Regions from separate parts of the Homo sapiens genome. Here region 1 is linked to region 2. Evidence: fine-mapped expression QTL. A gene starts in region 2. The other region holds a variant in brackets. All regions are shown on one strand. Distances are from middle to middle. Region 1 overlaps BPIFC (BPI fold containing family C). Region 2 holds the start of BPIFC (BPI fold containing family C).

The links. PIP is the estimated chance that this variant, and not a neighbour inherited with it, causes the effect. A credible set is the group of variants that fine-mapping cannot tell apart.
Region 1: its variant is the best candidate, but not a certain one, in a credible set for the expression of BPIFC in unexposed skin (GTEx, PIP 0.57).

The regions. Positions count from the first base shown.
Region 1 is chr22:32,440,082-32,444,477 of GRCh38, reverse strand. BPIFC (BPI fold containing family C) reads left to right here. Exons shown (of 17, transcript NM_174932.3): 8 at 1,747-1,807. Among named protein-coding and RNA genes, the nearest start is that of BPIFC, 22 kb to the left of the region's middle. The variant T/C (reference allele first, on the strand shown) is at 2,210.
Region 2 is chr22:32,462,290-32,466,685 of GRCh38, reverse strand. It overlaps BPIFC (BPI fold containing family C), which reads left to right and starts at 2,240. Exons shown (of 17, transcript NM_174932.3): 1 at 2,240-2,312.

The DNA of each region.
Region 1 (4,396 bases), 22 kb after region 2:
GGAAAAGAAGGGACAAAGACAGGGTCTGGTCACGTCCATCTCTCTAGTGCTCAGCTCGGTGCTTGACAGACATTATAGGTGCTTAATGAAAGTCGTAAGGAAATCAACACTCAGAAGCATCAAGCAGCTCATCCCAGGAGGTGGCGCAGCTGTCCAGGACTCAGAAGCCTTATAGTCCTTCTCCATCCTTACCTGACAGATGCTGAGTGCCAATGAGTGTGCATATTAGAGTCCCTGGCAAAGTGCACTGTCATCCTCAAGGACCCCAAACTTGATCATTCCCCTGTTTGAAACGAGGCACGGTCCTTTTGCCTCTGACAGGAGGCCAGTGAAGAATGAGTTATGTCACAGAAGCCAATAATTAAGTTTGCCTGAAATTGATTTATGGCTTAAAGATAATAGATGTTTCTGTGATTCTCTCTGTGCCACTGGAAGATAGAAAAGAATGCTGAGACCACAGCTGTCTAGCTGTGTAAACTGAGTTCAAATCCCGGCTATGCAACACCTGGCAACTCACTTAACCTCTCTAAGCTTTGGTTTTCCCATCTGTAATTAGGGGACCGTCATGCCTCCCTCTCAAGGCTGTAGTGAAGGTGAAATGGAGTTAAACTAACAACGGCTAACACTTACTCAATGCTTACTATAAGCTGGGCAAGTTTACATGGATTACTTCCATTTCTACTCACAATGTGATGAGGTGGACACAATTATCATCCCCATGCAAATGTTGCAGATGTGGAAACTGAGATCAAAGAATACAAGTAACTTGCCAAGGGATTCAACCCTCGGCCCCAGGCAGCCAAGCCTGTGCTGTACCCACTATGCCAAGCACATCAATGAGCACACAAGAGGCACATCAGTGCTGATACCTCTGCCCCTTCCTAAAAATATTAATGTGACTCAAGACTAATTTTCAAATTCCAAAAAGGTGGCAACAAAATAGATCTCTAAGTAGATCTCTGATATAATGTGCTCTCCAACTAGCCCAGGGGGAAAGTAAAAGCTCTAGCTCTGGGGCCGGGCGCGGTGGCTCACGCCTGTAATCCCAGCACTTTGGGAGGCCGAGGCGGGTGAATCACGAGGTCAGGAGATCGAGACCATCCTGGCTAACACGGTGAAACCCCGTCTCTACTAAAAATACAAAAAATTAGCCGGGCATAGTGGCGAGCGCCTGTAGTCCCAGCTACGCAGGAGGCTGAGGCAGGAGAATGGCATGAACCAGGGAGGCGGAGCTTGCAGTGAGCCGAGATCGCGCCACTGCACTCCAGCCTGGGTGACAGAGCGAGACTTCGTCTCAAAAAAAAAAAAAAAAAAAGCTCCAGCTCTAACCATTCCAGGTAGGGCATGCAACCGCTCCTAGAGGAGATGGCAAGCTGGCGGCACCCCCAGCAGTCAGGAAAGATACAGCAGCTCCAGCAGCAGGTTCCTCGGGTATAACAGCATGGACTGGGACGCATGCCCTATCATGTCACAGAAAGAAACGACAAGGGCTCACTCACTCTTTACAGGGCTGATTGGATGTAGTGCTAGTTGCTACAAAGTTCAGCTGGCATTCAGTGACATACCACCCGTATCTACGTAAAGCGAGGCCCATAGACATCAACAAATTTAAGAGAATGTCTCGATGACCAAAGGGATAATGACTGCTAACCAGAAGGCCTTTGTTTGCAGGGTCTAGGCCCATCAATAAGGCTTTCCAGTACAACATGGTAACTTGCTTTTTTCTTTTTATTCCTTTGTGGCCAGCTCTGTCCCATTATTGCAAGTGAAGTCAAAGCGCTAAATGCCAACCTCAGCACACTGGAGGGTGAGTCTTAGAACTGTCTTTTCCAGATGGTTGTCTTCCTACCTTCAAAAGCTGGTACTGCCTGGGTTTGCTTTTCAAGGCGGTATAGCTTGAGCTATCCATCCTGCTTCATATTCTGCAAATTAGAGCCCCGGGAAGGTGCTTGGGAGGATGTGCCTTGTGCTTAGGGCATATGTACTCTTTGGCTAATAACTAACTTCACTGCCACAAGAGGGGTGGCTCCAGGGGGATGAGATGTAGGTTCAGGAACTAAACCCTCACGAGCACGAACCCAAGCAGTGACATTACATCCCTTCTCTTCAGAGGGATTAACACTGATCTTGACCAGGTTATTCTGGGGTTCTCAGCCTGCAGTGGCTGCCCTGAGCATCAAGTCCTCGCACCTTAGCATGGACTACAAGA[T/C]TCACCACACCCCATCTCCTACTTACCTCTCTCTGCTTCATCTTTCTCTTTACCTTTCTCTGCCCCAGCAATCAAACTGTTTCCACTGCCCTCCTCACCCCTTGCCTTTGCTTTTGCTGTTTTCTCTGCCTGGAAGAGCTTCCTCTCTCCTCCATCCTTTCATTCCTTTAACCCAGGAGTCCCCAGTCCCTGGGCCACAGACAGGTTAGAAACTGGACTGCACAGCCGGAGGTGAACAGTGGGCAGGCGACTGAGCATTACTGCCTGAGCTCTGCCTCCTGTCAGATCAGTGGCAGCATTAGATTCTCATAGGAGTGCGAACCCTATTGTGAACCGTGCATGCGAGGGATCTAGGTTGCATGTGCCTTATGGGAATCTAATGCCTGATGATCTGAGGTGAAACAGTTTCATCCCGAAACCATCCCCCCCAACCCCAGGCCATGGAAAAATCATCTTCCATTAAACTGGTCCCTGGTGCTAAAAAGGTTGAGGACCGCTGCTTTAACAGATACATATTGAGTGCCCATTTCTAAACCTGCAGAGTTTAGCCAGCACTGTGCTAAACCCTGGAGGATTTAATCCTTTCCGTTCTCTATCTCTCTTTATATGTTGTGTTCCCTCCTCTTTATATTTAAGACCCAGCTCAGACATAGCCTCTTCCAGGAAACCTTACCTGACAGCCCCCACTCCGTAAAGTTATGCCTCCTCTGTGCTCACATGACACTTTGGACATCTCTCTCTCACTTTGCACTCCATCCATTCATTCACCAATGGCGCGCTGAGCACCTGAAATAGCCTGAGCACTGTTCTTGGTGCTGGGGATGCAGCAGTATTCCCAGGCAACAGACATACCTGCCGTCATGGGAGTAGTGGGAGGAGACAGACAGCAAGCAAGATAAACAAGTAAAATCTAAGTTATGGCAGTGATAAGTGGTAAGAAGAAAAATAAAGCAGTGGAGGAGGTGGAGAGGAATTTCCATTCTAGATAGAGTGACCAGGAAAGCCACCACTGAGCAGGTGGCATTACTAGAAAAACCCAAAGGGAGTAGAAAGTGAGCTGCTGCTCAATCTAGATGAAGATTCCAGATCGAGGAAACTGCAGGCACAAAAACCCTGAGGCTGAATATCTCAAGTGTGCTGGGGAGGCTGTGAGAAGGACACACTAGGAGCAGGGGGTTGGGGGAGAGCAGGCAATGAGGCCAGAGATGGGGAAGAGGGGATGGTTTGATCTTCAGGGATGTGTAGGGACTGCAAAGTCCACCTCTTAATCTAAGATGGGATGCCTTTGAAGAGTAAGGCCGGCATGACTTAACTTACAGTTTAAGGAGATCGGTCTGGCTTCTGTGCTAAAAAAAATAGACAGGAAGGAAGGGGGTCAAGGGCAAAAGCAAAGAGACTACTTAAGAGATGAGTGCAGTGACCCATACAATTAATGATGGTGGCCGGCCTAGGGTGGGGTGATGAAGATGGTAAGGCATGTTGGGATTCTGGATGTACCTTGAAGGTCAAGACAGTGGTTTTTGTGCAACAGATCAAATGTAGGTCAGGAGAAGAGTGAAGGGTGACTTTGGTGGGTAAAACCCTAAGCAATTGGAAAATTGGAAGAAGGGATTTAGCATTTATTGAGATGGGAAAGAACCTAAGAACAAGTTTGTAGCAGGATCATCAGGAGCCCAGTTTAGATCAGCCTTTGCTGTGTTGTATTATAATTTCCTGTTGATATATCTGTCTACTCCCCAAGACTATGAGTTCCTTGGGTGCAGGAACTTTGACTCACCGCTGTGCCCCCAGCGTCAGGCACAGCACCTAGCCCATTAGATTAAGAAATATCAGGCGCAGTGGCTCACTCCTGTAATCCTAGCACTTTGGGAGGCCAAGGTGGGAGGATTGCTTGAGGTCAGGAGTTCAAGACCTGCCTAGGCAACATAGTGAGACCTTGTTTCTATATAAAAAAAATTTTTTTTTAATTAGCCAGGCATGGTGGCGTGCGCCTTTAGTCCCAGCTACAGGGAGGCTGAGGTAGGAGGATTACTTGAGCCCAGGAGGTTGAGGCTGCAGTGAGCCAAGATCATGCAGTGAGCCAAGATCCAGTCTAGGTGACAAAGTGAGATCTTGTCTCAAAAAATATATATATTAGACTGATAAATGGATGCAGATGGATGAAAGAAAATGAATGGATTGGAGATG
Region 2 (4,396 bases):
TGACCTCTTCCCTGAACTCTACCCACCTGACATCACCATTTACATCTCGAATACCATAACTTCTGCCCCAACTCCATTTCAGACAAACTGGCTCACCTTTGCAGTTCCCTCCACCTTTTCCTTTCAGCACTTTGCCTGCCTGGCTTCCAACGGTCACATCTCAGCGCAAATAATCACCTCCTCAGAGACGCCCACGTGGGTATCCTGATAAAATAAGCCCACCTCCCCCAGTTGCATTGCTCTACCTATTACAAGACCACCTTACCAACAACATTCCCTTAGTTCCGTCACAGTACATGTCACAATTTATACATTTTTGTTTATTTTATTGTTTGCTTATTTATTTTGTCTCCATCGACTAGAACATAAACTCCTCGTGGACAAAAATTTCATCTTTTTTGCTGAAGAGGACTTTGCACATTGTAGGTGCTCAGTAAATCTGTTGATTGAATGAATGAATTCATCTATGATGACCGACAATAAATGATCCCATGAAGAGCGTCTCTGCACCGTATCATTATTGATACGGCCACGTGCTAATGAGTAGAATTTCACAGCAGTTTACAGTTTTAATAGCGCATTCTCATGTGTTATTATGTTTTTCTTCACCAGAACCAATCAAGGAAGTTACTATTTCTATCCCCACTTTACCTTAAGGAAACTCAGTTCAAATCAGTAAGTATAACCCAAGGTATAACTCCCCTGAGAAGCTGTGAGAAGTATGGACAATGCCAAGTGAAAGCGTCTGTGGTTCCTTTCAGACTGACTTATCATCCTGATTTTCCCAGGACTGTTCTGGTTTTAGTACTGAAAATCCTGCATTCTTGGGAAACCAGGACAGTTGGTCACCGGGTCTTACCCAGAAAAGTGTAGATAAGCCATAAGAACTTCATGCAATCAGGCTGGGTGCGGTGGATCATGCCTGTAATCCCAGGACTTTGGGAGGCCAAGGCAGGTGGATCACTTGAGGTCAAGAGTTCAAGACCAGCCTGGCCAACATGGTGAAACCCCATCACTACTAAAAATACAAAAATTAGCCAAGTTTGGTGGTGCACACCTGTAATTCCAGCTACTCAGAGGGCTAAGGCACAAGAATCGCTTAAACCCTGGAGGCAGAGGTTGTAGTGAGCCAAGATCATGCCACTGCACTCCAGCCTGGGTGACAGTGAGACTGTCTCAAAAAAAAAAAAACCAAAAAACAAAAAAAAAAACTTCATACAATCAAATCCCTGGCCATCTAAAATACATTAATGGCCGGGTATGATGGCTCACATCTGTAATCCCAGCACTTATGAAGCCAACACGGGTGGATCAATCACATGAGGTCAGGAGTTCGAGACCAGCCTGGCCAATGCAGCGAAACCCTGTCTGTACTAAAAATACAAAAAATTAGCTGGGCGTGGTAGCGCACTCCTGTAATCCCAGCTACTAGGGAGGCTGAGGCAGGAGAATTGTTTGAACCCAGGGGGCGGAGGTTGCAGTGAGCCAAGATCGCTCCACTGCACTCCAGCCTGGGTGACAGAGTGAGACTCCATCTCAAAAAATAAATAAATAAAAATAAAAATAGATAAAACACATTAACTAAAATGAATTTATTGGAGATGAGAGTAGGGCTGGAGTTTGGAATCTGAAAATGTTAAGTTGCATAATAGTTGATGAACCCACCCACCCAACTTAGGTTTAAGGAATGCTGGAACAGTAAGTCATTAATAACATTCTGAAAAGGAGCGGACGGACACTGAGAGATGCCAACTGAGGTCCTACCCTGAGTGATAAGGTAACTAGGTCAGCCCGATTGTCAAGCCTCATGCTTTCAGACTGAATCTGATGATCCACCACAAGTCCCAAAGGTATTCTGGGCAGTAGTAGAGCCATCCACCGCAGGCACCCTGACCAGAAGGAACCAGCTTATGATTCCAGACAGGAAAATTCTTCCTCTTCCAATGCAGTTTAACACCGTTTTCAATCATTTTGGTAAAGTAGCCATCACAATTTCACAAGTGGTGTGTGTGTGTGTGTGTGTGTGTGTGTGTGTGTGTTTTGCAGGAAGATAATTATTGCATAGGTGGCACTGTCTGTTTATCTAGGTAGATACTGTAGTGCTCATTCATGCCATTGGGTAATTGTAGTGAAGCAATTATGTATCACATTTTGAAAGAGGCATTAAAAAAATTCACCACTGAGATGAGTCAGACTTAATTATCTTGGCTTTTTAGCAGCTGAGTTTAAGGCGCAAGGTGGAGAACACATCAGCTTCAAAGGCAGAGAGAATCGAAGGTGCTCTCCAGCTTTGGACACTTCCTCTGCTTGAGGTAAGACTCATGAACAAACTTCAGGTCTCTGCCAGCCATGATCTCCAAACTGGAGATGTCCCAGATTTGGTAGGACACTTTGAACAGGCAGCTGTCATATATCCTGGGTTATTATTATTGTCTGCCTAGATTTTTCTGTATCTTTGTTTGTTTGTTTGTGTGATGTCACATATGCGCACCTGGAGGCTTCTTAGGCAAAAGCTTTAGTGACAGCTAAACAGCCATAAGAGAGAAAAGAGTTGGTTTAAACCACCTACTTAGTTTTGCATCATGGAACAATGTTAAGAGGGTTGCTCAGTGATCTGGACTTATTTTTGCCTCCATTTCAGAGGGGAACCCAGCACAGTGGCAGAAAATTCTATCTTGTCTCTCAAAATCAGCATGGTTAGGACTAAGGAGTTGTTATAATCTCTGTGCTTTCAAGGCAGGTCTTAAAGCACATCAGTGACCTAGATCCTGCCAGAGCAAAACTAGCCACCCACTTGCCTGGACTGTTGAACTTGTTGGTGTTAGGCATAGAGTTTTGGGGAAAAGACATGCTATGAATTCTCAAGGTCCTTGTCATTAGAGATGTTGCTATAAAACTAGATGTGAGGAGTGGATCCCTTGAAATATTCTGCCCACGTTCCATACCTGTCGATTTAGACTTCTTATGTACGGTCATTTTGTCTTAACCAATATGTCGGAATACCCTTCTAGTTTAGACTTCTTTAAACCTGTTGAACTTAATTTTTCAACCTGCGCCTCTGTTTTGAAGGCTACATTTTACTCATTCATTACTCCCTTAATCGGTTTTTCCAGAGTCAGTCAAAGCTCTTGCCAAGCAGCAGTAGTAGTAGGACCATCTGTGAGTTTCAGGTGTTTTCTAAATTGGACTGGCATTTTCTTAGCTGTCAGGATGACTCACACAAGGACCATTTAATTTAGGAGTATTATTCTGTCTGTGTATTTGTATGGAAAAATAATGACTACTGAGATTTTGAATCTTGGAAAGAAGCAATTCCCCAGAAGCAACAAAATAGATAACTTGCTGGTGGGGTTTTTAAGTGATCTTGGATCCTTTTAACAGGCAACTAGCCCTGCCTGCACTTGTCAGCCAAATTACTTAACCTTTTAGTAGTCATCACCTTGCTTGACAAGGTTCCTTTCCTCCCCTGCCCATAAGTTATCATCGTAACTGAACAATTCAATGAAAAGTTATGTACAATTCACCCCTTCATACCCCAGTAATTTCTTTCACTCATAAAATTTCTAGAGGAAAAATATGTTTTCCTGCCTGTAATTTTGGATTCCTGGATCTCCATCAAAGTGTACCACTTCAGAAACTTTTTTTAACCAAGAAGGGAAAACAGGTTTTACTGCTGGCAGGGAATTTAAAACTCCAGTTGTGTCCAAGAAAATAAGAAGGGATTTGCACTGTGATGCTTGAACGTTTCTAGATGCTTATTGAATTTTTCCACCTTGAAAATGGTGTTTGGTTTTCTGTGCACATGTACCCTAGAACTTAAAGTGTAATAAAAAAAATTGAGTAACTTTTAAACAACAACAACAAAAAGGAAAATGGTGTCAAGCAACTCCTATTTAAAATTCCCAGATGAAAATGAAAACCCTAGCATGTATCGAGTCATTCAATAAAAATAAATTCATCAACACTAGAATTAGGAACCAGAAGAACAAGGTTGGGTTCCCAGGTGCCTTACTTACTGTGGGATCTTGGACGAGTCATCAGATTCTCTAAGCCTCCATGTCCACGTGTCTAAAATGGGAGTAAGATAATAAGAACATCCACTTCAAAGAACTGTGAGTTTTGTAAAGGGTAAAGAAATAAAAATTTATTATTTTAGTTGTTATTCCATTCACAAGTAATATTTCTTCTCTGGTTTATTATGTTTTTTTCACTATAGAAATGGAGAGCTCTATATTATATATGATAGTTTGGTTTTTCCTTTTTTTCTAACCATTTGTAGAACCTTTCTTAGTTGACTGGAATCTTTTAAGTCAGTCAGTTGATCAGTTAGCACATATTAATTTGGGTCTTACCATGTGCCAGGGAGAGATATCATGTCTGCCTTAATTTGCACACA